Regions from separate parts of the Homo sapiens genome. Here all the other regions are reported to be linked to region 7. The links are microRNA targets in miRTarBase. Many come from high-throughput screens and were not tested one by one. Region 7 holds a microRNA gene; each other region holds the end of a gene's coding sequence.

The links. The annotated mature microRNA hsa-miR-6777-5p reads ACGGGGAGUCAGGCAGUGGUGGA and lies in region 7 at 2,014-2,036, opposite strand. An mRNA with a match to its seed (bases 2 to 7 or 8) in the 3' UTR can be bound and repressed. Matches are read on the target gene's strand: a 7mer-m8 pairs with bases 2 to 8, a 7mer-A1 pairs with bases 2 to 7 and ends in A, and an 8mer does both.
Region 1: miRTarBase lists NECTIN1 as a target of hsa-miR-6777-5p. Seed matches in the 3' UTR shown: 7mer-m8 at 3,372-3,378.
Region 2: miRTarBase lists REG3A as a target of hsa-miR-6777-5p. Seed matches in the 3' UTR shown: 7mer-m8 at 3,217-3,223.
Region 3: the mRNA of CASKIN1 is a reported target of hsa-miR-6777-5p. Seed matches in the 3' UTR shown: 7mer-m8 at 565-571 and 7mer-m8 at 753-759.
Region 4: the mRNA of SEC16A is a reported target of hsa-miR-6777-5p. Seed matches in the 3' UTR shown: 8mer at 825-832.
Region 5: miRTarBase lists YIPF2 as a target of hsa-miR-6777-5p. Seed matches in the 3' UTR shown: 7mer-m8 at 1,252-1,258.
Region 6: miRTarBase lists SIPA1 as a target of hsa-miR-6777-5p. The part of its 3' UTR that is shown has no 7-base or 8-base seed match.

Annotation. Positions count from the first base shown.
Region 1 is chr11:119,661,325-119,665,324 of GRCh38, forward strand. NECTIN1 (nectin cell adhesion molecule 1) reads right to left here. Exons shown (of 6, transcript NM_002855.5): 6 at 1-3,973. The coding sequence ends at 3,423. Among named protein-coding and RNA genes, the nearest start is that of NECTIN1-AS1, 47 kb to the right of the region's middle. RefSeq lists enhancers at 3,272-3,810, 3,811-4,000.
Region 2 is chr2:79,153,861-79,157,931 of GRCh38, forward strand. It overlaps REG3A (regenerating family member 3 alpha), which reads right to left. Exons shown (of 6, transcript NM_002580.3): 5 at 3,712-3,838; 6 at 3,146-3,433. The coding sequence ends at 3,366. Among named protein-coding and RNA genes, the nearest start is that of REG3A, 3.9 kb to the right of the region's middle.
Region 3 is chr16:2,175,017-2,179,076 of GRCh38, reverse strand. It overlaps CASKIN1 (CASK interacting protein 1), which reads left to right. Exons shown (of 20, transcript NM_020764.4): 19 at 1-175; 20 at 431-1,897. The coding sequence ends at 527. TRAF7 (TNF receptor associated factor 7) reads right to left here. Exons shown (of 21, transcript NM_032271.3): 15 at 3,927-3,966; 16 at 3,660-3,776; 17 at 3,455-3,577; 18 at 3,124-3,243; 19 at 2,897-3,028; 20 at 2,693-2,812; 21 at 948-2,517. The coding sequence ends at 2,503. Among named protein-coding and RNA genes, the nearest start is that of CASKIN1, 20 kb to the left of the region's middle. RefSeq lists an enhancer at 748-1,249.
Region 4 is chr9:136,438,462-136,442,532 of GRCh38, reverse strand. It overlaps SEC16A (SEC16 homolog A, endoplasmic reticulum export factor), which reads left to right. Exons shown (of 32, transcript NM_014866.2): 32 at 710-2,428. The coding sequence ends at 778. It overlaps INPP5E (inositol polyphosphate-5-phosphatase E), which reads left to right and starts at 2,688. Exons shown (of 10, transcript NM_019892.6): 1 at 2,688-3,925. The coding sequence starts at 3,114. RefSeq lists silencers at 2,530-2,729, 2,780-2,959, 3,020-3,509 and enhancers at 2,582-3,215, 3,216-3,850, 3,800-3,909, 3,851-4,071.
Region 5 is chr19:10,919,497-10,923,567 of GRCh38, reverse strand. It overlaps YIPF2 (Yip1 domain family member 2), which reads left to right. Exons shown (of 10, transcript NM_001321439.2): 8 at 1-73; 9 at 161-296; 10 at 394-1,375. The coding sequence ends at 277. CARM1 (coactivator associated arginine methyltransferase 1) reads right to left here. Exons shown (of 16, transcript NM_199141.2): 9 at 3,888-3,973; 10 at 3,602-3,691; 11 at 2,995-3,132; 12 at 2,820-2,909; 13 at 2,622-2,734; 14 at 2,441-2,518; 15 at 2,125-2,193; 16 at 493-1,953. The coding sequence ends at 1,811. Among named protein-coding and RNA genes, the nearest start is that of YIPF2, 7.1 kb to the left of the region's middle. RefSeq lists a silencer at 2,357-2,536.
Region 6 is chr11:65,650,112-65,654,182 of GRCh38, forward strand. SIPA1 (signal-induced proliferation-associated 1) reads left to right here. Exons shown (of 16, transcript NM_006747.4): 14 at 27-81; 15 at 290-368; 16 at 458-801. The coding sequence ends at 604. It overlaps RELA (RELA proto-oncogene, NF-kB subunit), which reads right to left. Exons shown (of 11, transcript NM_021975.4): 11 at 3,490-4,071. Among named protein-coding and RNA genes, the nearest start is that of MIR4489, 3.0 kb to the left of the region's middle. RefSeq lists a silencer at 2,390-2,629 and enhancers at 2,690-3,169, 3,180-3,229, 3,970-4,071.
Region 7 is chr17:17,811,505-17,815,575 of GRCh38, forward strand. MIR6777 (microRNA 6777) reads right to left here and starts at 2,041; the gene lies at 1,976-2,041. It overlaps SREBF1 (sterol regulatory element binding transcription factor 1), which reads right to left. Exons shown (of 19, transcript NM_004176.5): 13 at 3,717-3,825; 14 at 3,331-3,440; 15 at 3,111-3,243; 16 at 2,741-2,906; 17 at 2,065-2,265; 18 at 1,864-1,975; 19 at 1-1,347. The coding sequence ends at 1,118. MIR33B (microRNA 33b) reads right to left here and starts at 2,427; the gene lies at 2,332-2,427. RefSeq lists an enhancer at 1,253-1,811.

The sequences.
Region 1 (4,000 bases), not on the chromosome of region 7:
CTCCTGGCCTCACAAGCTGGGCAGTGTTGGCAGCAGTGGCAGCAGCAGAGGGGCCTGCCTCCTGGCATCCCCGGTACTGGGCAGTGTGTGAAGCCTCCCTGTGGGTGTGGGGACCTGGGGCACACCCACCTGCCCCTCACTAGGAGAGGGTTTCTGTTGGCAGTCAGGCTTTGGGGGTCTCTGTCTGGACTCCTGAGGCCTGGGAGCACTACCCTCCTCCCAGAAGAGGGGACATCCGTGTCTGCTTGGCTCAGCAGAGCTGCCCACACCCACCTAACACAATTCCCAATTTCTCTGCTCTGAGGAAGGCAGAAAAGTTATTGCACCAGTGACTTGGGCAAGTGGGGGTTGGCTGGCAGAGGAAGCGCATGCCCAGGAAACAGGGCCCCTATAAGGCTCTCTTGCAGCCCGGGCACTGGGAAATTCGTTTCTCCTTAATGGCTTTCAGCAGGATCAGACCATTCCCTCTGCCACATCTGTGCTGAGTGGCCATCTGGCTGTGCATGCATGCGTGTGTACATGCGTGTACACATGCCTGCGCGTGGGTGTGTTGGAGGTGTGAGTGTGTCCACTGTGGGCACACGTACTGGGTCTGAGGTGGTCGCACTTGCAGGCCTGTGTTCACCTACTCTGTGCTGCTGCTTTTCAGACCCTTCTGATAAAAGGGGACTCGGCTGGTTCTATTACACATTAGAACAATATCAAAATCTGTAAGGAAACAGGGGCATGGGTGTGGGGTGGGGGGCAAGGACAGGGAGGGCAACAAGAGGCAGGATGACAACTGGGGAGGCCTTGGCACAATTCATACCAAGTTTATTTCATTTCCAGCAAAGCAGAAGCTCAGCTCATGCTGTGGGCATGAAGGAGAAGCAAAATGTCCTCATCTCTCTGCTGGGCTAGACCTCCCTTTTGCCAGCTGGCTGTGTCTGTGGGCCCAGCAGTAGTGCCCACCTTCCCACAAACTTGGGGCACAGAAAACCTCACATCCCTAGGTCCAAGTGCTGACTCCTGCCTCATGCCCACCCTCAGCCCAGGCTGGCAGCTGCTCGGTGGGTATGCTGAGGCTGGGCCCCTGGCAAGTCAGGAGCCTCCTACGTGGCCCATGCTACATGGACCCCAAAATTTGTGCTTTGCTTGTGGGGAGGGTGTGGAGGTGTCTTAAGGGGGAACTCAGTGCTTTGGCTGGGCTTGGGGCCTTCAAAGTCCAACACAGAATGGGGAATAGAGGGTGGCAGTGCAGGATAAAGGAGATGCAGGAGGAGACAGGGACAGGAAATGCCTCTATCAGGCAGGCCCCTGGGATTGCCTCCTGCCTGGGGGAAAAGGGGACCAAGCAGAGGGGCCAGAGTGTTGTAAGGTGGGATGGGGCAGTGATGTAATGTGGAAAAGGTCCCCTGTCCTGGGGGACACTAATACTGCTGGGAAAAGCAGCCCAGCTCCTCCACCTCCCTCTGCCCTGTGGCTGGAAAGACTCCACAATTTTCTCCCCTAACTTCACCCTATCCAGTACCCCAAATGTGTAGAGGGGAGAGCCGCACCAGGGCTGGCATGGCTTCAGACTTCTGCTACGTGGCTACTGGGCAGCCTGGGCTGGGGCCAGGGCAGTGAGGGCCAGACAACGACGACCCACCTGCTGGGCCCAGGGTTGCCAGGGCAGAAATGGAGCTGGCAGGGGGTTCAATAGCAGCACCAGGGAGGGGAGGGGAGGGGTTGGGGGGCTCCCTTAGGAAGCCTATGGCAGGGTGGGTCAGTGCCCGTGGGGCACAGAGTGGTCTGCCTCCCTCCTCCCCAACACTTGCCATCCTGCAGAGCCCCTGACACCCTGGGGTGAGTTAACTGGAATCCCAGTGGGCAGGCATGAAGGGCCGCGAAGCCTGCCTCTCCATCCCAGGGTCCTTCCCATGGGCATGCCTGTCTAGAGTGCCAGGGGATCTGGGAGCAGATGGAGGAACTGAGGCACTTTGAGCTGGGGGACTGAGAGGGCTGGGAGGGGTCTTCCTCCATTATATACATGGGAAGACCCAGTCTGGGGTGGCTGATAGGAACTCAATGTCCCATTCAAGAAGGGAATCTGCACTGAAAGGGAGGGCTTCTCCTAGGCCCTCCCCTCATCCCAGAATGAGGACCAGGGGTGGCTGAGCAGGAGGTGGCCTAGCGGCCCCACCCCCCTCACTTTCTGCCAGGCCCGAGGCTTTGACAATGGCCTTTGTGTGTGAGGCATTGTATGGACTCCTCAGTCCCTCGGACTGTGTTTGCAGAGCTTCTGCCATGTGGGCTTCCTTCCCCACTACCCTCCGTGTGGATGCTTCTTTACCTCTGACTCCTGCAGGTGGATCCCCCTGGGATCCCAGCCCTGACTAGCCAAAAGAACCAAGTGTTGCTAGATAAGGGAGAAATCAGAGAAACCTCCACGCTGTAAGAAGCAGTTTGGGGCAGGCCTGAGATCCTAGGGTGGAGGCACCGGGGACCCAGTCTCAGCTGTCTCTGGAAGCTTCTATAGGCAGACCCCATTCTCAGCTTAAAGGGGGAATGAGGTGGAAATAGACGGGTGGGCCTTGGGCAGTGTCTGGATGGGGCAGGGCATGGGACTCCAGGGGAAAGCAGGCAGAGAGGAGCAGTGTGTGCATGTGTGTGTGTGTGCACGTGTCAGCAGAGGCAGAGAGCAAGTGTGGGCTGGAGCCCACCTGGAGCCCCTAATGGAGGGGGCACATTGGGGATAAAGAGGGGACGCGTCAGAGCTAGGCCAACTCCACTCTCTGTGGGCCAATGAGGAAAAAAAATGTAAAACCACCCTCAGCAGGAAAACACTGCCCAAGGCCCCGCTTAACAAACAAGACTCCCTGGGAACTGGGGAGAAGCCGCACCCCTCCCCCTACCTCTTGGGCGCACCAGCTGTCTAGACCCAAGGTCCAAACTCCCAGCTGCATCAGATTTCACTGGTGGGTGTTGGGTTCCCTCTAGCCGGGAGGAGGAGCAGCATCTGGGGGTGTGGGGAGCTTTTCCCTCTTAGAGCCCCTTGAGCCCTCCACCCCCAGTGAAGAAACACAAACAAATTCCAGTGTAGGGGGGCGGGGGAGGCTGGCTCCCCAAACCCTGGAGGGATGCCCAGGTACACAAGACGAGAACAGGGCTCCCTACACAGAGGGCAGGCAGGTGGGGCCCGTAAAGGGAAGATACAGTAACACTAAAGCCACAGTCGAACACAACACCATGGGGAAGGGCGGAGGAGAGGGAGGAAATAAAACACAAAGCCAAGTCGTGGCTGCCCTGGGCTCCCCTGGCCCCCCAGGAGTTCGGGGCTGGCTTTGGGCAGCTGGGCAAGTCTCTGTTCAGCTCCTGGAGTGGGAGGTGGGGGGTGGGCAGGGGGCGTGCGGGGAGGGGCTGGGGAGGAGCGGTCACAGACAGAGGCTCTGGAAGGGGGGCTACACGTACCACTCCTTCTTGGAAATGAAAGACCCGTCGTTCTGAGAAACCATGTTCTCAGCCAAGTCCAGCTGCTCAGGGTCGTACTGGTAGCCCAGAGTCCGGTCCCCGTAGCCGTCCTGACGGGCCTCGGCCTCATCCACGGTGAAGTAGGGCCGCTTGGCGTCCTCGTCATATTTGGGGTGGGGGCCGCCCACCTTGCGCTCGCCCCCTCCACCGCCCTCCTCCTCCTCCTCCTCCTCCTCATAGCTGCTTCCACCCAGTGGGCCGGCCTTCTTCTCGTCGTCTGAGTCGTCGGGGTACTGCAGGTTCTGTGCCATTGGTGGGTGGTGCTGGGGGATGCCTGCCTTGCTGTAGCCGTTGCCATACACGTGCTTCTTGGTGCTGTAGTCACCCTTGAAGGTGTGCCGGCGCCGACGCAGGGCGACCACGATCCCGCCGACCACAATCAACACCAGCAGGATGCTCCCCGCCACGCCCCCAATGATGGCCGTGGGCACCGGCCCGGCGCGCCGCCCATGTTCGGGAGGAGACGGGGTGTAGGGGAATTCTGGGTGAGGAAAAGAGATGGAGGGGA
Region 2 (4,071 bases), not on the chromosome of region 7:
CTTTGAGATCTGAGATTCTTTCCTCAGCTTGATCAATTCTGCTGTTAATACTTGTGATTGTATTCTGAAATTTTTGAAATGAGTTTTTCACCTCTATCAGATCAGTTTGGTTCTTTCTTAAAATGACCATTTCATCTTTCATTTTCTGTATCGTTTTATTGTATAGAATCCTGGAAATGGATTTTCACTTTTGCCTGAAGCTCAATAATCTTGGTTCCTATCCATATTCCAAGATCTATTTCTGTCATTTCAGATATTTCAGACTGGTTAGGAACCATTGCTGGATAACTAGTGTAATTGTTTGGAGGTAAAAATAGACGCTGGCTTTTGGAGTTGCCAGAGTTCTTGCACTGGTTCTTTCTCATCTGTGTGGGCTGGCGTTCCTTTAATCTTTGAAGTTGCTGTTTTTTGGATGGATTGTGTGTGTGTGTGTGTGTGTGTGTGTGTGTGTGTGTTTATCCTTTTTGATGCCCTTGGGGGTTTGATTGTGGTATAAGGTGGGCTCAGTTGACTCACTTCATTTCTGGAAGATGTCAGTGGGCCAAGGTTCAGCTCAGCATTCCCCAATTCTGGAATGCTATTATCAGGCCCCTAGCTTTGTTCTCTCACCCCTCGAAGTTAGGAACCTGCTGTGCTGGGGGTCCAAAGGTGTTCCTGGATTGCTGGCCACAACACTCCAGTAAGTGGCAGTGACCACAGTACTCTGTCAGGGTGATAGCAGTGGGATCTGTGCTCATGCCACGGCAGTGGCAGCATGGCTGGGTGCATGCTCGTTGGCTGGGGTGAGGCACTGACAGGCATGGGGATGCCAAACCCCATGACCCATTATTTTTTATATATGTTTTCTGCCCATTTTCTGCCTCTGCTCCTTCTAGAAAACCCATAATATATATATTGGCTCAGTTGATCATGTACCATAGTTTCCTTAAGCTTTATTTTCTCTTTTTGTTTCTTTTTTCTTTTTGTTTCTCTGACTGGATAATTTCAAATGACTTGTCTCAAACTCACTGACTTTTTCTGCTGCTTGATCAAGTCTGCTGTTGAAATTCTCCATGCATTTCTTCAGTTCAGCCACTATGTGTTTTTTTTTAACTTTAAAACAAATCTCTTTCTTGACCTTCTGATTTTGTTCACATATTGTTTTTCTGATTTCATTTAGTTGTCTATCTGTATTCTCTTGTAGCTCACTGAGTTTCTTTTAGACAATTGCTTTAAATTATTTGTTGAGCAGTTTGTAAAATTCTTTCCCCTTAAGGTCAGTTACTAGTCCTTTATTTTGTTCTGTTGGTAATATCATATTTCCTTGATTGTTTATGATACTTGTGGTCATGTGTCTTTGGTGTTTGACTTTTTGAACAAGTAGTCACTTATTCCAGTTTTTACAGACTGGCTTTAGCAGACAAAGCCCTTCACCAGTCAGTCATCCAGAGATTCTGGGCAGGCCATCTGGCTTGGTCTTTGGGCAGGCTTGCTGCTGGCATCCTCAAGTGGACCTATTGACTTGGTATACCAGGGTAGGCAGTCACTTCATGAGGGCAGGCCCGAAGCCTCTAATCACAGGAGCCAGACTAAATCCTACTTCCTGGAGACCAATCTGGCTCTAAAGCAGGCCTTGAACCCATGTCTTCAGGGGTTAGCCAGGCACTAGGACAGATGTAGTATCTGAGTCTCTAGGACAGGTCTGGAGTTTGAGTCTGTGCATACTGGGCTGGTACCTGAAACTACAGGGGCTGGTATGGAGCCAGGGTTAGTGGGGGTGGCCTGTAGCCTGGGACCATGAATGTCAACTTGCCTCTGGGGTAAGTCTGGAGACTGGATTCATGGGGCTAAGGCTGGAGCCTGAGTCGGGGGGGCTGGCCTGGTGCTAAGGTCTACTGTAATGAAGCTTGATCCTGGGTCTGCTGGAGTATGAGGCCAGACTAGTACCGAGTCCACAGAGCCTCGCCTGGAACTGGGAAAATCCAGAACTTGTGTCTGTGGGGGCTGGCCTAGTGACAGAGGCCACAGAGGCTGGCCTAGCATCAGGGCTTTGTGCTCAGATGGACCTAAAGGCTTGGGGAGGGTTTGGGATTTGACAGGACCGTATCCTGCGACTGTGAGTGTCAGTCTGGAGCTGGGGTCTGCAAGTGCTGGCCTGAAGTTGTAGCTGTGGGAGCTATCCTGGAGCTGTGGTGGGTCTGAAGGGCAGGTCCACATGGGCAGGCCTGATGTCTAGGATTTCAGGGGTCACCCTGGAGTCTGTGGCTGCAAGTGCTAGCTTGTCCTTGAGGTGGGCTTAGAGTCTTTGTCAGTGGGTGCTGGCCTGTGGTCTGGAGCTATGGGGAAAAGCATGATGCTGTGTGTGTCTAGAGCCTGCATCTTCTGGGGCAAGACTGGAGGCTGCAGTCATGGGGGCTGACCTGGAGCCTGGGGTCACAGAGCCTGGGGCCACAGAGCCTGGCCTGGCATCAAGGCAGCCTGGAGTCTAAGTCCAAGGGTGTCTGCCTGGAGTCAGAGGCCACTGGGTCTTACTGAGGCAAACCTAGTGTTAGGGTCCATGGAAAACTCAAGTGCTTATTTCACTCTCTTTCCCCAAGTTTAGGGAATGTCTCTCCATGCTGTGCTTACTGAGATTGATGGAGGGGTGATATAAATAATGTAAAAGTCTTCTTTCTACCCTCTTCGATGCATCCTTTCTTATTTTTTGCAACATTCAGATGCTTTAATCACTCACTTGGGATTGTTAGCTCTTGTGAAGGTATTTCCATTTTAATGGGTAGTAGTTCAAATGAATGTTTCTGTGAAGGTTCAAGAGCTGGAAAGTCCTATCTACCATCCTGCTGATGCCATTCTCTGAGAAGTACTATTCTAAGCACCATCAGAGCCTCCTAAATCTGTTCATGTCACACTGTCAGGTTTGGGCTACGGGAATGGGAGGGCAGTAAGTACGCGGGAGAGAAATGTCCTCATCTCTCCACAACACAAATCCTACATGAGCAGGACCCACACCCTCATCATAACACACTGGTAGGGATGCACACTTCATCATTTTCCCTAGAGGCCTGGGTGAATAGGGAAGAAGCAAGACCCATAAAGTTTCCTCCACTCAAACACTTTGTCCTTCTCAGAGTATGGCTATGACACTGGCATATACAAGACAAACAAGTGCAGACTAAAAATTTTATTGCTCTTTAAAGCCTTAGGCCGTATGACAAAATGAAGAGACTGAAATGACAGCGGGGAGGAAGAAACAGAAGAAAGATAAGAATGAGGTGGTCAGGTTGGGGGAATTAAGCGAATATTCTCTTCCAGGGTGAGTCCTCACACTGGTCTCATGCCCATGATGAGTTGCACACCAAACACAGGCTGCTGACTTCCCTCCTGCACTAGTCAGTGAACTTGCAGACATAGGGTAACCTCACATTACAGTTATAATCTTTCCACCTCAGAAATGCTGGAGAGACAGAAGACATAAATGGAATGGGGCTGAGGAAGCTTGTGAATCCAATGAAGGGGCATCCCAGGTTTTAGCCTAGAAGTTAAAGCCTCTCCCTCACCTTCACCAGTGTCCCAATCCAGGAGAGAGATTCAAAGAAAGTGGAGAAGAGAGGAGATAAGAGAAGACACACTAACATTGTATTTTCTAGCTCAGGAAGATTTCCTGAAGGTCAGACCCAGGAATGGGGGATGAGATGGAAAACACTGGGAAGAGGCAGCTCCTCTGTTTCTTACCTGTGCTTCTCGACAGGCTCGCACAGTGGCCGGGGCTTGAGATGGTGGAGGGATTTCTCTCCCATGCAAAGTAATTCATCACATCACTGCTACTCCACTCCCAACCTTCTCCATTGGGCTCGGTGCCCTGTAGAGTAGAGGAGGTAGCCAGGTGAAGGGAATGGCCATTGCAGCTCTTCTTGCATGGCCCCTTAGCTGCAACACCTGATTTGCTCCCCAGCATGAGGAAAGTTGGTCTGCTATTCCAGATGCTGCCGGTGAGTAGGAAACTCTTCCTTGACTCCTCATTGCTATTGGAAAATTCCAGCCAATAAACATAAGACCTTTGGAACAACTCAAGGTAATATATTATTTGCAGAA
Region 3 (4,060 bases), not on the chromosome of region 7:
CCCCGCGAGCCGCCGCCGCCGCCGCCGCCGCCGCCGCCGCGCCCCCCGCCCCGCCCGAAGGCGCCTCGCCAGGGGACAGCGCCCGGCAGAAACTGGAGGAGACAAGCGCGTGCCTGGCCGCGGCGCTGCAGGCGGTGGAGGAGAAGATCCGGCAGGAGGACGCGCAGGGCCCGCGGTAGGTGCGGGGCGGGGCCTGGCGGGCGGAGGGCGGGGCTCGGCAGAGATGGGCGGGGCTCGGCAGAGATGGGCGGGGCTCGGCAGAGATGGGCGGGGCTCGGCAGAGATGGGCGTGCCGTGAGCGGGGCTCCGCCGAGGTCGTCGTGCGGTAGGCGGAAGCCGACGGAGATGCGGGACGTGGGCGTGTCCTGGTCGGGGTGGGCGTGGCCAGACCCGCCCCGCCCACTCACGCCCCTTGCCCCGCGCCCCGCAGCGACTCGGCGGCGGAAAAGAGCACTGGCAGCATCCTGGACGACATCGGCAGCATGTTCGACGACCTGGCCGACCAGCTGGATGCCATGCTGGAGTGAACGCCGCCTGGCCGGGCCCTCCCGCGCCGCCCGGGCCCTCCCCGCACACTGACCTATACCTCAGGATGGGCGCGTCTGGGCGCGGCGCGAGCGGCCGGGCAGGGCCCTGCAGAAGCACAACTCCGGCCCCTGGACCCGGGCCGGGGCGCCCACCGGGGACCGCCTGGCCGGGGGCTCCAAGGGCTCTAGGCAGACCCTGCGCCCGCGGGTCCTCCCCACCTGCTGCTCCCCGTGCAATACCTGCTGGGCCTCCTGCCCGCGCGGGAGGGGAGGGCGCCCCGGGACCAGGGATGGGGCAGCGCACAGGCCCGGGCCCAGCACAGAACTGCCCATCGGGACGCCCGGCCAGCCGCTCGGGCGCAGCACAAGGGACAGGGGACCAAGGTCAGGGCCCCCCTGCCCCACCGCACCCCCAGAATATAAGCTATCAAGAGTATTAATTTATTGGGAATGAGCTGAGGCGGATTTCCCCAGAGAAACAAAAAGGTATAACTTTAACAAATATATATTTAAAGAAAGAAATATTATTGATTCTATAGAAAACCATTTACCAACTGAAAGGACACGAAGTCTAGCTCCGGACAAAAGCTGTTAGAGGCCCAGGCTGTCTGCCTGCGGTCCTTCCTCCGGCCAGAGTGGAGGCCCCAGGCTGCTAGCACAGGTGGAAGGCTGGGGCCCGGGGGCGGGTGCTCTGCCGGGGGCTCCTCCGTGCTTCTCTCCTAAGTTCTCTGCGCCCCAAGAACTCGAGGTTGTGCCTTGCTCTCGGCGGCCGTGTCCTCCTCCTGGCGTGGCTGCGTCCCAGGGCGCGGGTGGGTTTGGTGAATGTGGGTGTGTCAGCGTGGCAGCCACGTGGAAGCAGGGCATGTAGCAGGCCAGGCCACGGGCTTGCAGCTCCTCTGAGGGTGTGCCTGGCCCCCTCTCCAGGGGCTGTGCAGGCAGCCCATCCACCCCAGTGGAGTTCCCACGGACGCTTCTGCTCATGGTCCAAGGCTGTGTTGTGTGGTCATTCTCGCCCTCCCTTTTCCTCTCTCCTCCTGCCCCCTCCAAGAAGTACTGACTGGTCTCCTCTATCGTGTTTGCTGATCCACAGTGTTGGGCACAACTTTGACGTTTCTTAAAAAAAAAATTTAAAAAATGCCGAAAACCAGCGATTGTGGTGTGGGGCGGGTGGAGGCGGCTGGCGGAGGTGGCGTCCCGGCGTGCAGGGCCCCTTCCTGCTGTCTCACCCCGTGTTTCCCTGCGAGTGGACGTGCCCAGCTGTCCCCCCAGGCCTCTCCTCAGAGGGCGGCACAGGCTGGGCTCCAGCAGGTGGGCAGGGGAGGTCTGGGCAAGGCGCTGCCGTCGGCTGTCAATAAACAGCAGGAAACAGAGGTGCCTGGCTCACTTTTTGGGGGCACATGTGTTGGGGGAGATGGGACTGGAGGCCAGCAGCTTGGGTGTGACGAGTTGCCTCCTAGCAGGGAGGGGAGGCCCCGGAGTGGGCCGAAGTCCTGGGGTCCACCAAAGGAAACTGCCCCATGCCCCCCCACTCACAGCAGCCAGTGCCTGTGCACACCAACCTCAAGGCCACACACAGCCCCCTTGTCCCGAGGAGCTGTCCCCACTCACAGCCACAGTCTGTGGAGCATTTATTTCAACCAGGAGGTAACCAAATCTACATACAGTCTAAAAACGGTAGAAAAGGTGAGTAAAAAGGCCCTCGCTCCATCTAGGGTGGGGATGGAGGGTGGGGATGGAGGGTGGGCCGGGGCAAGCGTCGTACCTGGCACCCAGAGAGGGGCTGGGCAGCAAGGACAGTGCCGAGTAGAGGGAGGCTCGCCGAGCATGGGACGGGGAGGGCACTGCCCGGCTGCCAGAGCCTGTCCACCTATGCCCACGGGGCAGGCAGAAACCCCGAGACCACCCCATGTGGCCAGCCTGGCTCAGAAAGGTCCAGGGCTGGTTCAGGGGAAACCACAGCCTGGCCTGGATCCTGTTAGCAAGTCCAAACCTGCAGAGAAAGGGCTGCTTCACCAGGATGTCCTGCGGCCGGCTGCCCTGCCCCAGCCACACCTGCCACACGTACCTGCCCTCCACCACTTTGTGCTGGGGCTGCCAGCTCCTCGTCCCCACCCCCGCTCCATCCTGTGCAGCCCCTTTGAATGGCCTGAGCCACGGGCACTGACCTTCACAGTGCTATCCACAGCCCCTGAGAAGAGTCGGCCCCGGGACACAGCCAGCGCGGTGACACTGCCCTGGTGACGCAGCAGGGTCTGCGTGCAGATCATGTTGTCCATACTCCAGACCTGGGGGCACATGGGACGTGAGGGCCCGCCGGAGCTCAGCTGCCAGCCCTCTGAGCCTCCTGCCACCGCTGGGCCAGCACGCACCCTGAGGGACCGGTCGTAGGATGCACTGAAGACTTTGGTCTGGTCTGGCGTCGAGATGACCGCCAGGGCATACACGGTGCCCACGTGGCCCGTGAGGGTCCGCACCTGCTCCTTGGACTCAATGTCCCACACCTGGGAGGGGTGGGCACAGGCAGGTCAAAGACACTGAGCAAGGCGGGGGAGACGGGGCCACAGTCTGGCCTTGCACCCAGATGCCCAGGCCTTACGTGGATGAGGTTCTCGTAGGTGCCACAGACAATGTGGTGATTTGTCACAGCAATGGAGTAGACGCTGCCACCAGACGTCTGCAGGACGTGGATGCAGTCAAGGGTTCGGATGTCCCAGATCTATGAGTAATCGTGGGCCAGTTGGTCCCAGGCCAGGTGCTTCACCCCCAGGGCCCCCGCACCCCCAGGGCTTCAGCACTGCTGGGCAGCCCACCCACCCAGCCAGGGGATGTGCGAAGGTAGGAACAGGGCAGATGGAGCCCCAGGTGCTGGCCTGGGAAGTGCTGGTAGGAGGCAAGGCCCTGTGGCCACCAGGTGTGCCCAAGCGCACCTTGATTGTCTGGTAGGAGCCGCTGTACAGGTAGCTCTGGGCAGCCACCAGGGCCCGCACCCAGTGGTTGAGGCCTGTGAGCTCCTTCTTCAACTTCAGCTCAGTGCCCACGATGTCCCAGACCTGCAGGGATTGCTGCAACTGTGGGCTGGGCGGGCAAGGGACGCCTCAGTGACACACACGTAGGCACAGCCTCCACCCGTACCTTGATGGCCTTCAGGGAGCCGCTGAAGAGCACGTTGTGTGAGGAGACCAGCGTGCACACCGGGTTGTCATGGGCCCGGATGGTGTTCACCTTCTGCAGGTTCTGGATGTCCCACACCTGATTGGGGAAGGACCGGCAGCCTCAGGGCACCAAGCCCTGCCACCTGGAGTCTGGAGCCCAGACGGGGAGAAACACGTCCCTGGGGCACCTACAGACTGGGGCGGGCCTGGGCCGCCTCCTGCCCACCCGCCTGTAGGCCCCACTCACAATGATGGTGCAGTCTGCAGAGCCGCTGTAGAGTTTGCACCTGGGGAAGCAGAGACAATGTGTCAAGGTGGGAGAAGCTGTGTCCATGCTGACACCGCCCTGGCAGGGCCCGAGGTCCATGCCAGCCATCAGGA
Region 4 (4,071 bases), not on the chromosome of region 7:
GAGCTGAGCGGGGTCCAAGGTCTGGGGCCTCTTGGGATTCAGCCCCATTGTCACCCCAGCCTGCCCTCACAGCCTCACACACTCTTGACTGCAGGCTTCCTGGGCTGGGGCCCAGCACTCCTGCCCTGGTCCTCTACAAACGAGGCCGAGGCTCCCAGGACCACTGCCCCCAAGCTGGCCCCTGGCTGTCACCTGCTTTTCAGCATCCAGACTAGTCGATTTTGGTATTGTCCTGCTCCCTTTACCATGTGGTTAGTGCCTTTACAAAAATTCCTTGGCTTTCCCCTCCATGAGGCTTTGCGAGGGAGCAAGAGTGGATGCCTGCATTGGCCAGCTGTCTGCAACTGAGGTCCCCGCGTCCCATGCAGTAGGCCAGGCCTGGCCACCACTTGTCCCTGGACTCTGGACAGCCAGGCTGGCTCTGCAGAGCAGCTCCAGGTCTCATGGCCCTGATGAAACCACGGCACCTCCTGGCCACCCTCACAGTAAACATTGATGGTTAAGGATACAGTGCTTTCAAGGGAGCCCAGGACTTGGCACTGACTTGTCGGTTTCCAGAGGCTTTTGGAAACAAAAACGAAGCCTTCAGCTTGTCAGCGCCAATGGCCCGTGTGGTTCATTATGTGGACCAGCCCCTGCCACGCTGCAGCCGAGCACTGCTCACCCTGGGGGCAGGCATGCAGAGGTCATGCTGTTGATTTCATTCCAGGCCTGCGCCACCTCCGGGAGCTCAAGGCTAGGGAGGATTGGCCAGAGGAAGCACCTGGTGCTGAACTAGGCTTGCCCTGCTGTGAACTTGCACTTGGAGCCCTGACGCTGCTGTTCTCCCCGAAGAACCCGACCGACCTCCGCGATCTCCGTCCCGCCCCCAGGGAGACACAGCAGTGACTCAGAGCTGGTCGCACACTGTGCCTCCCTCCTCACCGCCCATCGTAATGAATTATTTTGAAAATTAATTCCACCATCCTTTCAGATTCTGGATGGAAAGACTGAATCTTTGACTCAGAATTGTTTGCCGAAAAGAATGATGTGACTTTCTTAGTCATTTAGGATGATTTAAGGATATAGTATTCCTGGTCATTTAAGAATGTTCATTCATTGAAGCCGGAGCTGTCTCTGCCACAGGAGAGCCACATGGTCGGTAGTAACCAGGGCCTCTCCAAGCCCAGCTGTGAGTCACTGCCCAGTGAGTCCCGCGCTTCCTTTAAGGTGCTGGGAGCAAAGAGAGGGTGACTGAGGCAGACCCCAACCCCTGCTCTGCACCATCTGGGCCCTCGCCGTGTTTGAACCTGGCTGAATGAGTGGAGGGCGCTGTGTTCTCAATCAGCGCCTCCGAGGAGCCGTGGGGTTCCTTCGGCATTAGTTCACGGTTTTTGAGAGAGGCCTTAGTTACTGCAGTGAATTTCTTTCCTGTTGCAAAGACGCTTCCAGCCTCACTTTACTTTCTGTGGCCTGATGAGGACCATGGGTGATTTTGTGTACCCAAAGCGCTGGGGACTGCCCACCGTGTGGCCCAGTCACTGGGAAGGAGCCCCAGAGAGCCGGCTGTCTGACATGATGGCTCAGGGTGGTCATCCAGGTTGAAAACTGACCGTGTGATGTTTGATTTGGGCTTCATTTCGTGTGTAGGAGCACGGTTAGACTCACTGTTAAGGAAGCTGGATGCACTTCTCTAAAAGGCTGCACTTTCCGTGAGCACTTTTCGTGGTACAATCCACATGACCCACTTTCTCCCCTGGGGGACGTTGGTTCAGAGGTTGGTAGCACTTGGGGAGAGTATCTTAACACAGTTTCTTGACAGCAGCTCTGGAACTTAGTATTTCTGCCCCGAGTTTTGCCACACTGAGACTTTGAGTAGCTCCTGGTGGACTCAACCCTGTTCAACTCAGAGACGGGCCTCCTCTCACTGATGCAAAGCTTTAAGGCTTCTCTGACTGTTCTGAAACTCTTCGTATTCTTGTCAAGTCTAAAGAGACTGAAGAAAAGATTTAAATACTAATAAAAATCAGTAGATAATTTCTGTAGGTTCTGCTGGAGGAATACAAACTGTTTGGTGTTTTAAATTTAAGTGTAGAAATTGTAGAATGTGGAATTAGCACAGATCCTTCCTGGCTTTCTGTTTCACTTGATCATTTAGCCCAGACCACCCAGGATGTTTTCCAAAATGTTCCACAGGCGTGTCCCGCTGGATCCATTTGTCCTTGTCACTTGGAGAAAGGCCAGTCCCTGTGACGGGGCAGCCCTCTCTGTCCCTCGGTCAGCTCGTGTGAATCCTGGGACCTCTTCCGGTCGGCTCTGCCCGCTGTTCTGGGGTCGACTGCCACGACTTTTGATTCAAGAAGCTTCCTCCAGGCGGGAGCGGCTATTTTTCCTAAATGAGAATTGTTACATTGCAAATTGTTGAATAAAATATTTTGCGCTCCTTCAAGCACCTTCACCTGTGGTTCCCTTTGGTTTGCTGGAAGCGAGTGAGTGCAGGTGTCCGCAGGCCTCGGCGCTGTCCTGGACCGCACCCAGGTCCTCTCCGGGGACCTGCACCTGCCTCGCTGGGACCTGCCGGACTGCGGGGCTGCCGGGTTGGGAGGGGCGTGGGAGACCCGTCCGGGTCCGGTGCGGCGCAGTCCTCCGGCCGCCAGGGGCCGCTGTGGGCGGGGCCGGGGCGCGGGGCGGGGACCGGGCGCGGCCCCGCGGCGGCGGTTGCTGGGTCCCGGCCGGGCTGACTCCGCTTCTGGGCGGCCGGGCCTCCGCGAGTACCGGGTCGACTTCGGAGTCTGCGAGCCCAGCCAGGGGTGCCCGCTTCCCACCCCTCTCCCCGAGCGGCGTCCCCGTCGGGGTCGAACCTCCCCCGCGACAGGCGCCCAGCCGCCTGTTCCCCCAGGCCTTGCCTGCGGACCGCCCTGGGAACGGCGTCTGGGAGCCCCGAGGGGCTGGCGGGACTCGGGGCCCGGGCCATGCGGCAGCCGCCCCCGCCCCTCCGCGACCATCCCCGGCCCAAGCGGGAGCCGCAGCGGCGTTTCTGCTCCTCGCTGCGCCGGCGACCCCGGACCCGGCACCCGTGACCCCTCGCGCTGCCTGCGGCCTCGCGCCGAGGCCTGCCCCGGGAGAGACCGTCCATGCCGTCCAAGGCGGAGAATCTGCGGCCCTCCGAGCCGGCCCCGCAGCCGCCGGAAGGGAGGACGCTCCAAGGACAGCTTCCCGGCGCTCCGCCGGCCCAGCGCGCGGGGTCCCCACCCGATGCTCCGGGCTCCGAGAGCCCCGCGCTTGCCTGCAGCACTCCGGCCACGCCCAGCGGCGAGGACCCGCCAGCCCGAGCAGCACCCATCGCCCCGCGGCCCCCCGCCAGGCCTCGACTGGAGCGAGCCCTGTCCCTGGACGACAAGGGCTGGAGGAGGAGGCGTTTTCGAGGCAGCCAGGAGGACCTGGAAGCCCGGAATGGGACCAGTCCCTCCAGGGGCTCAGTGCAGAGCGAGGGCCCCGGGGCCCCCGCCCACAGCTGCTCCCCGCCCTGCCTGAGCACCTCCTTGCAGGAAATCCCCAAGTCCCGCGGGGTCCTGAGCAGTGAGAGAGGGAGCCCGTCCTCGGGGGGTAACCCTCTCTCTGGGGTGGCCAGCAGCTCCCCGAACCTCCCGCACAGAGACGCCGCCGTGGCGGGGAGCTCGCCCAGGCTGCCCAGCCTGCTGCCCCCGCGCCCACCGCCTGCCCTGAGCCTGGACATCGCCTCCGACTCCCTGAGGACAGCAAACAAGGTCGACTCGGATCTTGCAGACTACAAGCTCCGCGCGCAGCCGCTCCTGGTGCGGGCCCACAGCAGCCTGGGCCCCGGCCGGCCGCGGAGCCCCCTGGCCTGCGACGACTGTTCCCTTCGCTCGGCCAAATCCTCCTTCAGCCTCCTGGCGCCCATCCGCAGCAAGGACGTCCGCAGCAGGTAGGGAGGGCCTGGCGGGTGCAGCGCCCGCGCCGCCTTCGTTGTAGTGTTCAGGCTGCTGGAACCTCGTGAGACCGTTCCCATCAGCAGCGTTTAAGATGCCTAACCGGAAAGAACGAAGCGGGTCTCCCGCAGCCACCCCATCT
Region 5 (4,071 bases), not on the chromosome of region 7:
CACCAGGCTGGTGGCCACAGTGCTGCTGTCCGTGGTCGTGCTGCTCCACGCCCTCCTGGCCATGGGCTGTAAGGTACGGGTCTGGGGTGGCCACAGGTGGGGCCGAGGGGCTAGGGGGGCATGGGCTGGCCCTGCCTCTGACCCCAGGGGTCTTGTGCAGTTGTACTTCTTCCAGTCGCTGCCTCCGGAGAACGTGGCTCCTCCACCCCAAATCACATCTCTGCCCTCAAACATCGCGCTGTCCCCTACCTTGCCGCAGTCCCTGGCCCCCTCCTAGGAAGGCCCGGGTCCCACAGGTAAGGACTATTCCCAGCTGGGCTAAGGGGGCTGCCCTCCCACTCCCAGTCAAGGCGAGAGGTTCTGGGGCCACTCCCAGACAATTCTTTCTTTCAGGCAACACCTAAGTGGACCAACCCCTCTGCCTGTCCTGCCCCCCAGACGATGACTGAAGGCTCCTTTGACACCTTGAGATGATTCTGCTACTTTCCAGACTTTTCTTACAAAGCAAACACTTTTATTTTCTATGCAAAGGTGATTCAGAGAATTTATATAAAGGCGGGCGAGGGGCAGCCGAGCAGGGAGCTTTGGGACAGGGCTGGGGCCCCCATATCCCCCCCGGGCCACCTGCTTTCCCTCCTATGGCTCCCCTGGAACAGGAGGGAGAGCCAAGGGGGCGGCCCAGCCTGGACAGCGCCCGCTCCTGCCTGGGTGCACACACGGCGGGCCTGAGCTCCAGCATCTGAGTTTGGGGGTATGAGAAACAGGGGAGCAGAAGGAGAAGAAAACTGCCTGTGCTGCAACACGTTTCCTCATTTATTTTTTCTTTCTTTTTCTTTTTTTCTTTTTTTGGAGGGAGAGGTCCCTGCAAGGTCCCTTCCCGGGCAGGGGAGGGATGGAAATGCCGTCACAGTAGTAGGGACTGGAGCGTCTACAAGGATGGAGGGGAGCTACTCAGGCCTAACGTTAGCTACAAGGAAAAAGGACGCCTTCCGTGACAGATCCTTGAGGTGTCTGTGTCTGCCCCAAGTGGCCGGCAGTGGCCTTCCCTCCGGGCCCAAGGCCTGCAGCCACCTGCTCTAACTCTTGAGTGGGGGGGCGGGGGGGGACCTGCAGGGGCTCGGGGACAGGACAGCAGCAAGAGGCAGGGGCCGAGGACGGAGGCCTTCCCGACAGTGGGGTGGGTTGTACATTCAAGTGTGAGGTGAACCCTTTGGTGGGGAGGGGGCCCCTGAAGCCTCGGCGGGGCCACCCCTCCCCGCGGCGCCTCTGAGTCTAGGGAGAGGGGCTGCTGGCTCGGCCCGGCCGGCCTGGCTTCACAGAGGGTCTGCGGATTGACACTGGTTCTTTTCATAAAAAAATAAAATTAAAAAAAGCAGCATGTCACGTCCGTTGTGACCGAGGCCTGGTCGTCGAAGGGGAGGCCCCGCCTGGCCAGGCTACCTTCCCACTGGAGACAGGCAGGGGGACAGGTGCTAAGGGACCTGGCAGGCAGGGCTGGCAGGCCCCATGGCGCCTGTTCCAGCAGATGACAAGCCCAGGTCAGGGTAGAGCGGGCAGGAGGGGGGACGAGGGCTCCCACAACATGATTTTGTGTAAAATATGGCAGCGACACACGCTCAGGGCCGGGAGGTGGGGGTTAGGGTGGGGACGGCGGCAACATCGTGTAAAAAAGTGTCCCAGTTCCCATAGCAAAGAGAGCTGTGACCGGGTGTTCGAGCTTCTCCAGTACAAGGGGGAAAGCCGCCCGGCGGGGGCGGCGGGCAGGGACATCATTTGGTTTCCTGGTGCTGTCAGTCCGCGGGGCGGGCCCCTAGCTCCCGTAGTGCATGGTGTTGGTCGGGATGGACATGGGCGACGCCATGGAGATGGCGGGGCCGCCCATGGTGAACTGGCTGTTGACTGCATAGTGGGCACTCGTGCTGCCACCACCACTGCCCTGGGCGCCGGAGGACCCTGTGGAGCAGGCAATGGCAGTGAGGGGCTGCCCTGGCCCGCCCAGCCCCCAGGCAGAGTCACAGAGAGAGAGAAAGGGCAGGCAAGAGGGCAGGCGGGCGGCCGGACAGAGGATGGCGACTCACACGCTAGCTCGGCCCCCACGGGCCCTGCCCCCGCCACCCTCGTTACCTTGGACAATCCCCGTGCTCATTATGGAGCCCATCCGGGAGTGGGTGTGATTGACAATCCCCGTGTTGGCTGCGCAGCGAGAGGGAGGAAAGAAGGAAGGGAGACGGCGTCACCGCCCCCAGCCACCCAGCCCATGCACAGCAGCAGGCTGCAGAGCGAGGCAGAGAGGACGGAGAGCCTCGGCCGAGAGCCCCCAGGAAGAGGAAAAGGTGAAAGGACCAAGCAGAGGCCGACCCTGGTCACCACAGGCCCTTCCCGGCCCCTGGGCAGTCCTGGGCATGGCTCCCTGCTGCCCCTGGCCCTGGGGGACACTCACCTAAAGGAATCAGGTTGTTGTGGCCCACGCTGGAGCCACTGGCAATAACACTGCTCAAGTCATAGGCGGTCGGCATCCCTGTGTCCAGAGAGGGAGACGTCAGGGCTGGAGGCAGAGGGGCCAGGCCTGCGGCGAGGGCGGCCTCCCGGGTTGGCTGGGCATTGGGGTGGGCCCTGCTCACCTGCCACGGCCATCCCGCTGCTGAGGTTGTAGGTGCTGCCCGTGTTCCACATGTTTTCCGAGGGAGATGTGTAGTGGGAGCCGGGTGGGGGTGAGGGCGTTGTGCCCGTGTATCTATGGCAGAGACAGAGCCATGGGCAGGGGCAAGGGGGTTGCAGGGCCGGGGCGCCCCCCTGTGCAGGCAAGGGGCCCCTCCTACCTAAAGAAGGGGTTTTTCAGATCCAGGAGGTTACTGGACTTGGAGCCGGTCTGGTCCACCTGGGCCACAATACTGATGTCGTAGCTCTGTCTGCGGACAGGGTGCAGGCCGTGGCATGAGCTGCTGGGCAGATGGACCCCTGCCCACCACCACCAGCCCCAGGGAGCAGTCGCACCTTTTGTTGGCAATAAGCAGACATGTCCCTGAGAGCGTGTCCCCTGCCTTGGCGAACAGTGGTGACTGGAACAGGCACCGCACCTGGTACCAGTGGGTCAGGGGCTCTGTCGGGGCTGTGGACAGCCACACGGTCATTCTGTGGAGCAGGGACAGGCACATACTTGACTGGGCCGGCGCCACCACTGGAGCCACCACCTTGTATGCCTTGAGTCCTCCCCAAGCACCTGCCCCCTCTGCCAGGGACCCCTGGGACCCTGGAGCAGAGACAGGCTGGCCCCCAGGCAGTCCCAGACACAAACATGAGCAGGCATACATGTACACACGAGGGGCCCGCAACCACGAGATCCCTACTCACCCTGACATGTGCCAAGAGACAGACACAGACCCATGAGGGACAGACACTGGGAACACAGGACACACACACACATACACACACACACACACACACCCCACCCACAACAGTCTCTTGCTCCGAGACAGGCTCTCACTCCCATTGGAAGGGATGGTGGAACCTGGAGCCATGTTCCACCCCCCCAGCCAGGTTGCAGCTGCAGGAAGCCCTGGGAGTGGGGAGGAGGCAGCATGGGCTGCTCTGCGGCACTCACATGGAGCCGATGAAAGCAACGTCAAACCAGAAAGCCAGGCCGTGGACCAGCCCTGAATGCAGCATGTGGAATTTGAATGGGATTTCTATCCTGGAAGGCAAAGGGCAGTGGCTGCTGGGGAAGCCAGACAGGCGCTGCCGAGAGAGAAGAGGGGGTGCCAGGTGCAGAGGCCTGGGGCCCCCGCCCACCATCTGCCCTGGGACGGCAGGATGCCGGCGGGAGCCAGGGGTGGCCCTGACCTTCGGCCTGAGCCAGGCCTGGGAGGATGGAGTGTGGGTGCCAGTACCTGTGCAAATCTCCTTCTTTGGCTTCTAAGAAGTTCACCGTGTACTTGACAGACTTGGCCATCAGGATCCGGATGTCAAATGTGTCCTGGGAGAGACCACAGGTGTGACGTGGCATCTGACGCCAGGGCCAGCATGGGAGGGGAGAGCCCTGCCCCTTCCCCCAGGTCTGCCCACGGCTTCTAG
Region 6 (4,071 bases), not on the chromosome of region 7:
CCCACCTGATCCCTTTGTCCCCACAGGACAGCCCATCCCAGAGAGTGGAGACCCTAAGGGAACTCCAAAATCTGATGCTGAGTAAGCTCCCCAACTCCCCACAGCCGCTTTACCTGCCCACATGACCCCCCCTTCGTGCCTGTCTGCTGGGGTGGAGCTCTGTCCTGGGCTCTGCTGCCACATATGCCTAGAAGACCAGCGGGGCCCCTCTCATTAGCTGGGGCTGGGAGTCAGCTGGTGCACTGCCCCCTGCCTTGGTCCTGCTGAGTCTTGACCCCCATGTCTTCAGGCCAGAGCCTGGGAACCTCTCAGAGAAGGTCTCTCACTTGGAGTCCATGCTCAGGAAGCTGCAGGAGGACCTGCAGAAGGTGAGGGGTGGGCTGAGCTTGGGGGGAGTCACAGGGCTGCCCCAGGAAAGGGGCTGGCGGCTCTGACTCCTGTCTCCCCGGCACCCCAGGAGAAGGCGGACAGGGCGGCCCTGGAGGAGGAGGTGCGGAGCCTGAGACACAACAACCGGCGGCTGCAGGCGGAGTCTGAGAGTGCAGCCACACGCCTCCTCCTGGCCTCCAAGCAGCTGGGCTCACCCACCGCCGACCTGGCCTGAGCCGTCTGGAACCACCTGGGCCCCTGAGGGCACTGTGGTCACACTGGGCCCTCCTCAGGAACTCTCCCTGCGCAGAGGCGTGTCTTAGCACTGCCCCCCTCCCTAGCCCCTTATTTGGTGGCGGAAGTGGCCTCCACCCCTTCCCTGTTTGTAAATATTCTGTGGAGAAAAGAGGACTTCAGGGAGTAAAAAAGCCACTGATGTCTGTGTCTGAACATGTGTCCAAGACAGGGCAGGGCAAGGGGTTTTGCCTCCAGAGGCCCCAGCCAAACTCCTCGGACCAGTCAGGACAGGCCCTGGGAACACTGGCTCAGAGATGGGCTGGCACTCACTGAGGGGTCCCTGAGGCCAGGCCACTGCTTGGCTTCTCTCCCATAACGTTTATTTGGTTCTGCAGGGAAGCAGGTGGCCACACCCCACAGCTACCCTGGCCGTGCATCACAAGGCCCTGTGCCTCAGTGCAGGCCTCACTCTTCTCTCTGAAGCCACTGAGCCCCCAGGCCTTGTCCTCTCTCTACCCACCTGGCCACTTCTTGCAGGGCCCAATTCCAGAGGCGGTGGCATCTCCGCCTCAGTTGACTGGGGCTGTTTCTATGTCCTGGAGGAAACGGGCCCTTGACCCACTTCCCTCCTCACCAGCCTATGGTCCTCTCTGTTCCTCGCGAGGCCAGGCCTTTCCCCGAAGTGGCATCATCAAGTCCAAACTTGGGACTTTGTCTAAATCCTTTGGTTTCTGGACCTGAGGCCCAGATAGGGCAGACTTGCCCAGCATCTCATGCCTATTCCAGTCCCTTCCCTAGGCTGGCTGAAGCTCCATGGTGAGACCTAGGCCCTGGGTCTGTTAACTTAGGTGCTGGCAGGATGAGCTAGGCTCGGAGAAACAGAGCATCTGAGGATCAGGAAGGCTTCATGGAGGAGGTAATATGAGGGCTGAGTTTTGAAGGCTGGGTAGGAGTTCACCAGGCAGAGACGTCAGAGGTATCCTGGTAGGACCAGTCTGGCTGAGGCCTGCTGGACTAGAGCCAAGGCACACCCAGGAACCCAGCGTCAAAGAAGCCAGATCAGAAAGGGTTGTGAAGGTGCACTAGGGATCCTGGGTTAGCAGTTCCCAAGACTGCCACTTTTTCCTGGTTGTGGACTAGTGTGGAAGGCTGTGGTCACTGAGGGTGTGTCTGCAGAAAACTCGGATCTGGTCTTGTGGTTGATGTTTGAAGGGAGATTGATGGGGTGAGATCTGGATGTCAGAGCTCTTTGGCTGCAGGGAGGCGGCTGTAGCCGCAGTCCAGTGGGAGGTCTAGTGGTGACTTAAACTCAGTGATAGCAGTGACAGTGGGGAGAAGTGGGCAGATTTTCCAGGACCTCGTGGAAGGACTGGACGCAAGTTACTAAGGGAAGAGGCGGCATCTACGGTAGTGGCCAGGTTTCCGGCTGGAGCCCTTGGAAGGTGGCAGGGCCAGGGCTGACAGGGAAAAGGAGAGGCAGGCTGGGGATGGCTGAGGTCATTTGGAACAGGATGAGTTTGAGAGGCCCGAGGACGTCAGAGTGGAGATGTCCAGGGGCTGGTGCGCAGGGGAGAGAGATCTGGGTTGGATACGAGGACTTGGAGCTGCTGAGCCATGAGCATGATGGGGTCATTCACGAATGAGAGAAGAACCAGGAGAGGTCTTCGTGGGTCACGGGAGGTCGCGGGACCGAGAAAGCCAAGAGGAGGGAGGCGCAGCCTGGGCTGCAGGGCCTTGGCTCCCTGGTTTCCCTCTGGGCCTCGGGTCGCGGACCTCCGGTCGGGGTCCCTGCGCAGCTCAGCCGTCGGCTTCCTCAGCGTTAGGAGCCTTCTCACCCCGCCCGCTTCCTCCCCGACCCCGCCTCCCAGGCGCTCCCCGGCAGCTTCGCCCGGGTCCTGACCTGGCCACCGCGAGCCCGGGCTCCGCCCCTCGCGTGGGAGTTCCGCCGAGGCCCGCCCTCGCTCCAAGCCCCGCCCCTGGCCGCCCCCCCGGAGCCGGAGCCCCGTGGAAAACGCCACTTCCTCGACGGAATTGGCCTGCCGTCTCGCCGGCGCCGCCCGTCGGAGCCTGCACCCAGGGCCTTTTCTGTTCCTAGGAGACTCGCTGAATTTTGGGACGCGTCCCGCTGACGATAACTCCTTTTCCCCTGCTATTGTCCTCCCGCGACGGTGCGAAGCCCAAACGAAGACGCCATCGGCCTCGGCGGGGATTTTCCCCAGACGCTGGACCCGGCCTCCGGTTGCTGCGGGCTCCTTGTGCGCCTGCGCAGTCGAGAAGGGGGCCCACGCCGGCCAGCGCTTTTTGCTGCTGCGCTTGCGCTGGGGCAAAGCGGAAGTACGTCCAGCTGTAGCCCTTGTGGGCTGCGGCTGGGCCTTTGTTTTGGCTTCCTGAGGCTGTGGATTGAAGATTTCACCGTTCCTCCCAGAACAGAGTATCAAAGCATCGGTGGGCCGGGTAGATCTTTACCTGGCACCACACATTCCCCAAGAGAAGCACACACTCCCTGGGCCACCCAAGGAATTTGGCCCCATCACATCTTTCGAACATCGTTTCTCTTACCTCTGACGCTGGCTAGTCCCTCTTTGACATCCACTCTCAGCTGATCTAAGACCTGGAGCTAATGGGGCCTCTTGGAAGACTCCTGAAACTGCTCCATCCCCACAGCCAGCGGGCTCTACTAGGCTCTCAGTGTGCTAGGACTCTTGCCTTAGCTGCCCGTTTTCATCCACTGGACGGTAACTCGGGGTTTCCAAGGGCATTCTCAGACTGCAAGCTCTCAGAGGACAGTGCACGCATTCACCCAGCTCTCTACCACCAATGTCTGGCCTGATGTGACTAGCAAAATGTGTGCTCAGTGTTTGCTGAAAAAAAGCGGATCTCTAGCCAGCTTGGCAACAGATTTATTAGTTCAGAGTAGAAAGAGCAAGAGTCCAAGTGCTTTGATTGTTCAGTAAAAACTATGCCTCCTGACTGGAGAGCTGCCAGCCTGCTCTCCCCCACTCTTAACAACTTACCCTACTATTAAGGCACTTGAGAAGAGGGAGAGCAAGGAAGTCCCAGACCAAACCCCTTCTGGATCCTGGAGAGAGCCAGTGCTGTTGCACTGGTTTCCTTCAGCCATGGTTGAGCAAGGAAAGAGCCGGCAGAGACCTCTGTAGGGCAGGAAGGCCAGCCCCTCAAACGCTGGTGTTAGGCACAGGGACAATGCCAGTGCCATACAGGGGCTGGTATCTGGGGCGTTATTTTGATTAAGCTGTAATGAATCCATGATGGAAGACACTTGATAAGGCTTTGTGGGCTCAAAGGCCTTACCTCCAGCCTGCTTCTGTCTCTAGGAGAGTACCAGAAGCTGGAGGATGGGGATGGGGGACCCCAGAGTTCCCTACAGAGAAGGGAGCTGACCATCAGGACAGGGGAAAAGTTTGAGTTTCCCCAGCTCCCCCCTTTCCAGAGAAGTTAATGCTT
Region 7 (4,071 bases):
TAGGTTGGGGAATGGGAATGAAGGGAGGGGCTGGGGGGGGGGGCATGAATGGAGTCAGGGAGTCGGCCTTTCACAGAACAGGAAACCTCCCCCGCCCCTGTGCCCCCTCTCCAGTGTGGCGGCAGGTCGGGAGGGAGGAGGCTTCTTTGCTGTGAGATGACCAGGGGCCGGGATGGGGGAGGTGAGACGTGCCAGACTTCTTGCAGGGAGACCCAAGCTGTAGCTCCTGTCACACAACAGGTCCTGGAAGTCAGTCCATCCTCCCGTGCCACCCAGGGACCTGATGGGGACAGAGCTGGGAGGTGAGAAGGGACAACTGACCCCATGGAGGCCCTAAGGGTTGACACAGCCCAACCATGTGCCCTGGGAGCAGGGGGAACAGGTAGGCTGGAGGCCATACAGCCAGCCCTCCCCACTCCTCCCACTAACAAACAAACATCGGGAAGAGCTAAGTTAAAAGTTGTGTACCTTGTGGCCGGAGGGGGAGGGGAAGCCTTTCCCTAGGTGCTGGGGGAGGGCCCAAGCACTCTCACTAGTCAGCACATCCATCAGCTGAAGACACAAAACCCAGATTATAAATAATTTCATTTTTAATTCTCTGTACAAAACTTCTCAATCTATGAAAATAAAGTTTGCAAAAGGCAAAGTAGCACAGGAGCCTCAGGTCAGGAGGCTAAGCACGCTGACCTACACTATGTACACGTCTCTCTCCCACGACGGAGAGAGAGGCCTCTGGGGCAGAGCCCTGCTTGCAGTCCGGGAAAGCCAAGTTGGCTTCCGTCAGCACAGGGAAATGTACCCCTCTCTTCCCTGTACACAGGAGGAAAAAAGCCACTAAGGTGCCTGCAGAGCAAGGAGGGGGGCCCCCCAAAATGGCTCGGCCCCTGCAGTGCCCCGATCGGCCACCAGAGGTCAGCACCATCATGGCCGCCGGTCTTAGGGTCAAGATCGCGCCCCTCGGGCCTTCCACCGCGAAGGCACACAGCAGCCGCAGGTCGAACTGTGGAGGCCAGAGTCTCTTGCACTGCCTTCGGCCTTCAAAGCTTCGACGCAGGACAGAAGCTGCACGGGACCAAAGTGGCTAGAGACAGGGGTGCTGAGGCCGGGGACACGGGGTCTAGCTGGAAGTGACAGTGGTCCCACCGCCCAGGCGCATGAGCATCTGCTGACAGTCGTGCAGCAGCCGGCGATCGCCAAGCTTCTCGAGTGTGCGCGCCGCCTCAGCCAGCATGCCCACGCGCTGCCCGGGCGCCGACAGGAAGCCGGGGGGCAGGTAGCAGGAGGCCAGCAGCAAGGCCTCCGCGTGCTCCCGCCGCGTGGGCCGCGGCTCCAGCTCCGCCACCGCGCCTGCGCACACGAGGATGTGTCAGGGATGGGTCTCAAGCTGGCCACGCCCCCGCGGGAGCCCTGCCCACACACAAGCCACGGCACCAGCCGCCTGTACCTGGCACACAGGTACCTGGCGGGGGCCTGGCGGGTTCCCCTCTCCCCACCCTAGTCTCAGCCCACACACAAAGTCCACAGACTGAGTCACGCACGTGCAGTCATGTATCCCACAAATGACAGTCACCCCACTGATTCCTTGTGAAAGGAATTGTCATCAGGTAACCATCAAGAAGATGCTTGGTCTTTTTTTTTTTTTGAGACAGGGACTCTCCCTGTCACTCAGGCTCACTGCGGCCTCCAACTCCTGGGCTCAAGCTGTCCTCCCAACTGAGCCTCCCAAAGTGCTAGGTGTGAGCCACTGCGCCAGGCCTGTCTGTCCCGTCTGACACACACACAGCCTCCCTTGGTATCACATCCCATGTGCGCCCTTCCCTGCTGAGCAGACAGCACATCCCTGGTCAGCAGCTGCCCCCTCACCTCCTTTGCCACCGGGGCCTGCCCGCCGCCTCAGACTGCGGTCGAGGAGCTGGTGTGTCCGTGTGGGGCTGGCCCCCGCCATCAGCCGGGCCGTGGCCTCATGTAGGAACACCTGGGGGCCAGGAGAGTGGAGGCTCAGGGCTCTCCATCTCCACCACTGCCTGACTCCCCGTCTTGAGGACAGGGCCATCGGGCACTCACCCTCCGCATGGCGGGCCGGAAGCTCTGTGCCAGCCGCCTCAGGCTGCTCAGGTCCCGTTGGAAGCCACGCAGCTCAAGGGCGGAAGCCTGGGGCCTGCTGCTGGTGCCCTGGGCTGCTGGGGCCGGGGCCGGGGGCTGCTGCTGCCGCCACAGGCTGGTGCGCACCACAAGAAGCAGGTCACACAGGAACAGCTGCACGGCCTGGGGGTGGCAGGCAGGGCAGGGGTCACCAGGGCTCCAGCTCTGGGAGGGGCAGGATGGGGGCCCGTGGTGCCAGGGGCCGGCTCCGGGCTGCACTGCCGAGGCACTGCACCCGCCTCACACACGTGCAATGCAACAGCAATGCACCGCGGGGCCGCCCGCCTCTCTCGGCCCCCACACCCGCCACCGGCCCGGGAGCAGCTGTCCAGCCCTCCTGATGCAGGGCCTCCAAAGGGATCCTACCACACCATCCACCCCCCTCCTCCCAGGGATGGGGAAACTGAGGCCAGATAGGGGCAACCCCTCTCCTCTGGACAGAAGCCTTAGCCAAAAAGCAGGGTCTGCTGGACCCCCTATCCTGTGCTGCTTGGGCTAACCCCATGGTCTTCTGCAGCCCCTGGGGGCTGGGGAGAGGAACCAGGGAATGGAAAGCTGAATCCCCCAGCCCTGCCAGGCCCCTGACCCCACCCCTCACCTTGTCAATGGAGCTGCTGGCTGGTGTGGTAGCCAGGCTGTCCTGCAGGTACCCACTGGCCTTCTCACAGATGGTCAGGCTGGCTGGACCAGACTCTGCCTTGGCACAGCCCAGCAGGGCCCGGGCAGCCTTGAAGGAGTGCAGAGCTGCCCTGGGCAGGGGTCTCCTGTTGGGACCAGGGCAGAAGAGTGCCAGTCAGACCAGTCCACAAGCCCTGGCTGAGTGCCCCCCACTTCCCTGGCTCGAGTTCCCTGAGGAAAAAAGGTGGTGACTCCTCCTGCACAGAACAAAGGCTGAGTGAGGCACAGTGCCCAGGGGATGAGGAAGGCTGAGCCCGGGACCAGGCAGGAGGAACCTGCCGTGCACTCACTCAGACTCCTGCAGCACCCGGGGCAGGTGCTCCACCAGCGGGCACAGCCGCTCAGCCGCCTCCTCATCCCGCCGCAGCCAGTGGATCACCACAGCTGTCAGAGAGGCCCACCACTTGGCCACCGGGTCTACGCCTGCAGAAGAGGGAGGGTCCCCTGAACCCTCAGTCACGCTGCACGGGGGAGCTGAGAAGGGAGCCAGGACAGGGGCCGGGGACTCACCGGTGGTGGTGGCCATGCTGGAACTGATGGAGAAGCTGTAGGCAGGAGCCCCCGCAGCATCAGAACAGCTGTTCAGCAGCTGCAGGTACCCGAGGGCATCCGAGAATTCCCTGTGGAAGGAGAGAGCTGGCTGTCGGAACAGATGGCAGGGGTCCTAGGAGGGTGCTCCCCACCTGCCCTCCAGAGTACAGCCTGGCCCCTGGCTCTGCAAAGTGCCACTGTCTCCTCCCACAGGCTGGTGGGGAGAGGAAACTCAGAGAGGAATGAAGCGTGCATGGCACGCACGGTAGCCCAGCTCTGGGCTCTCTCCACAGGGTTGAGGCCAGAGCTATTCTCAGAATCCCGCCGGAGGGGCCTTGCCTGGAGGAGGGCACAACGACACTTACTTGTCCCCATCAGCTGACCCAGGGCTGGGGTTGGGCTGGGTCACACAGTTCAGTGCTCGCTCTAAGAGATGTTCCCGGAATAGCTGAGTCACCTGGGCCAGGGGGTCCACTGTGGAGAGGAGGAGGTGAGTGGGGTGGGGAGCAGGGCCCCACCCTCCTCTCCAAGCTAAGGGCTTTTTCCTGGGTGGGCTGGGGCCACACCTAGGGCCACTGGGAAGTGCCGGCATGCCCCTGGGTGCAGCCCCTGCCAAGGACAGGGGAAAGCGGGTGGACATAACTATCACCAGCACCAGCCTTGGCCAGGAGACAACACTGAGGCCTGCCCTACACTGCTTCCAAAGGAAAACCGACTTGA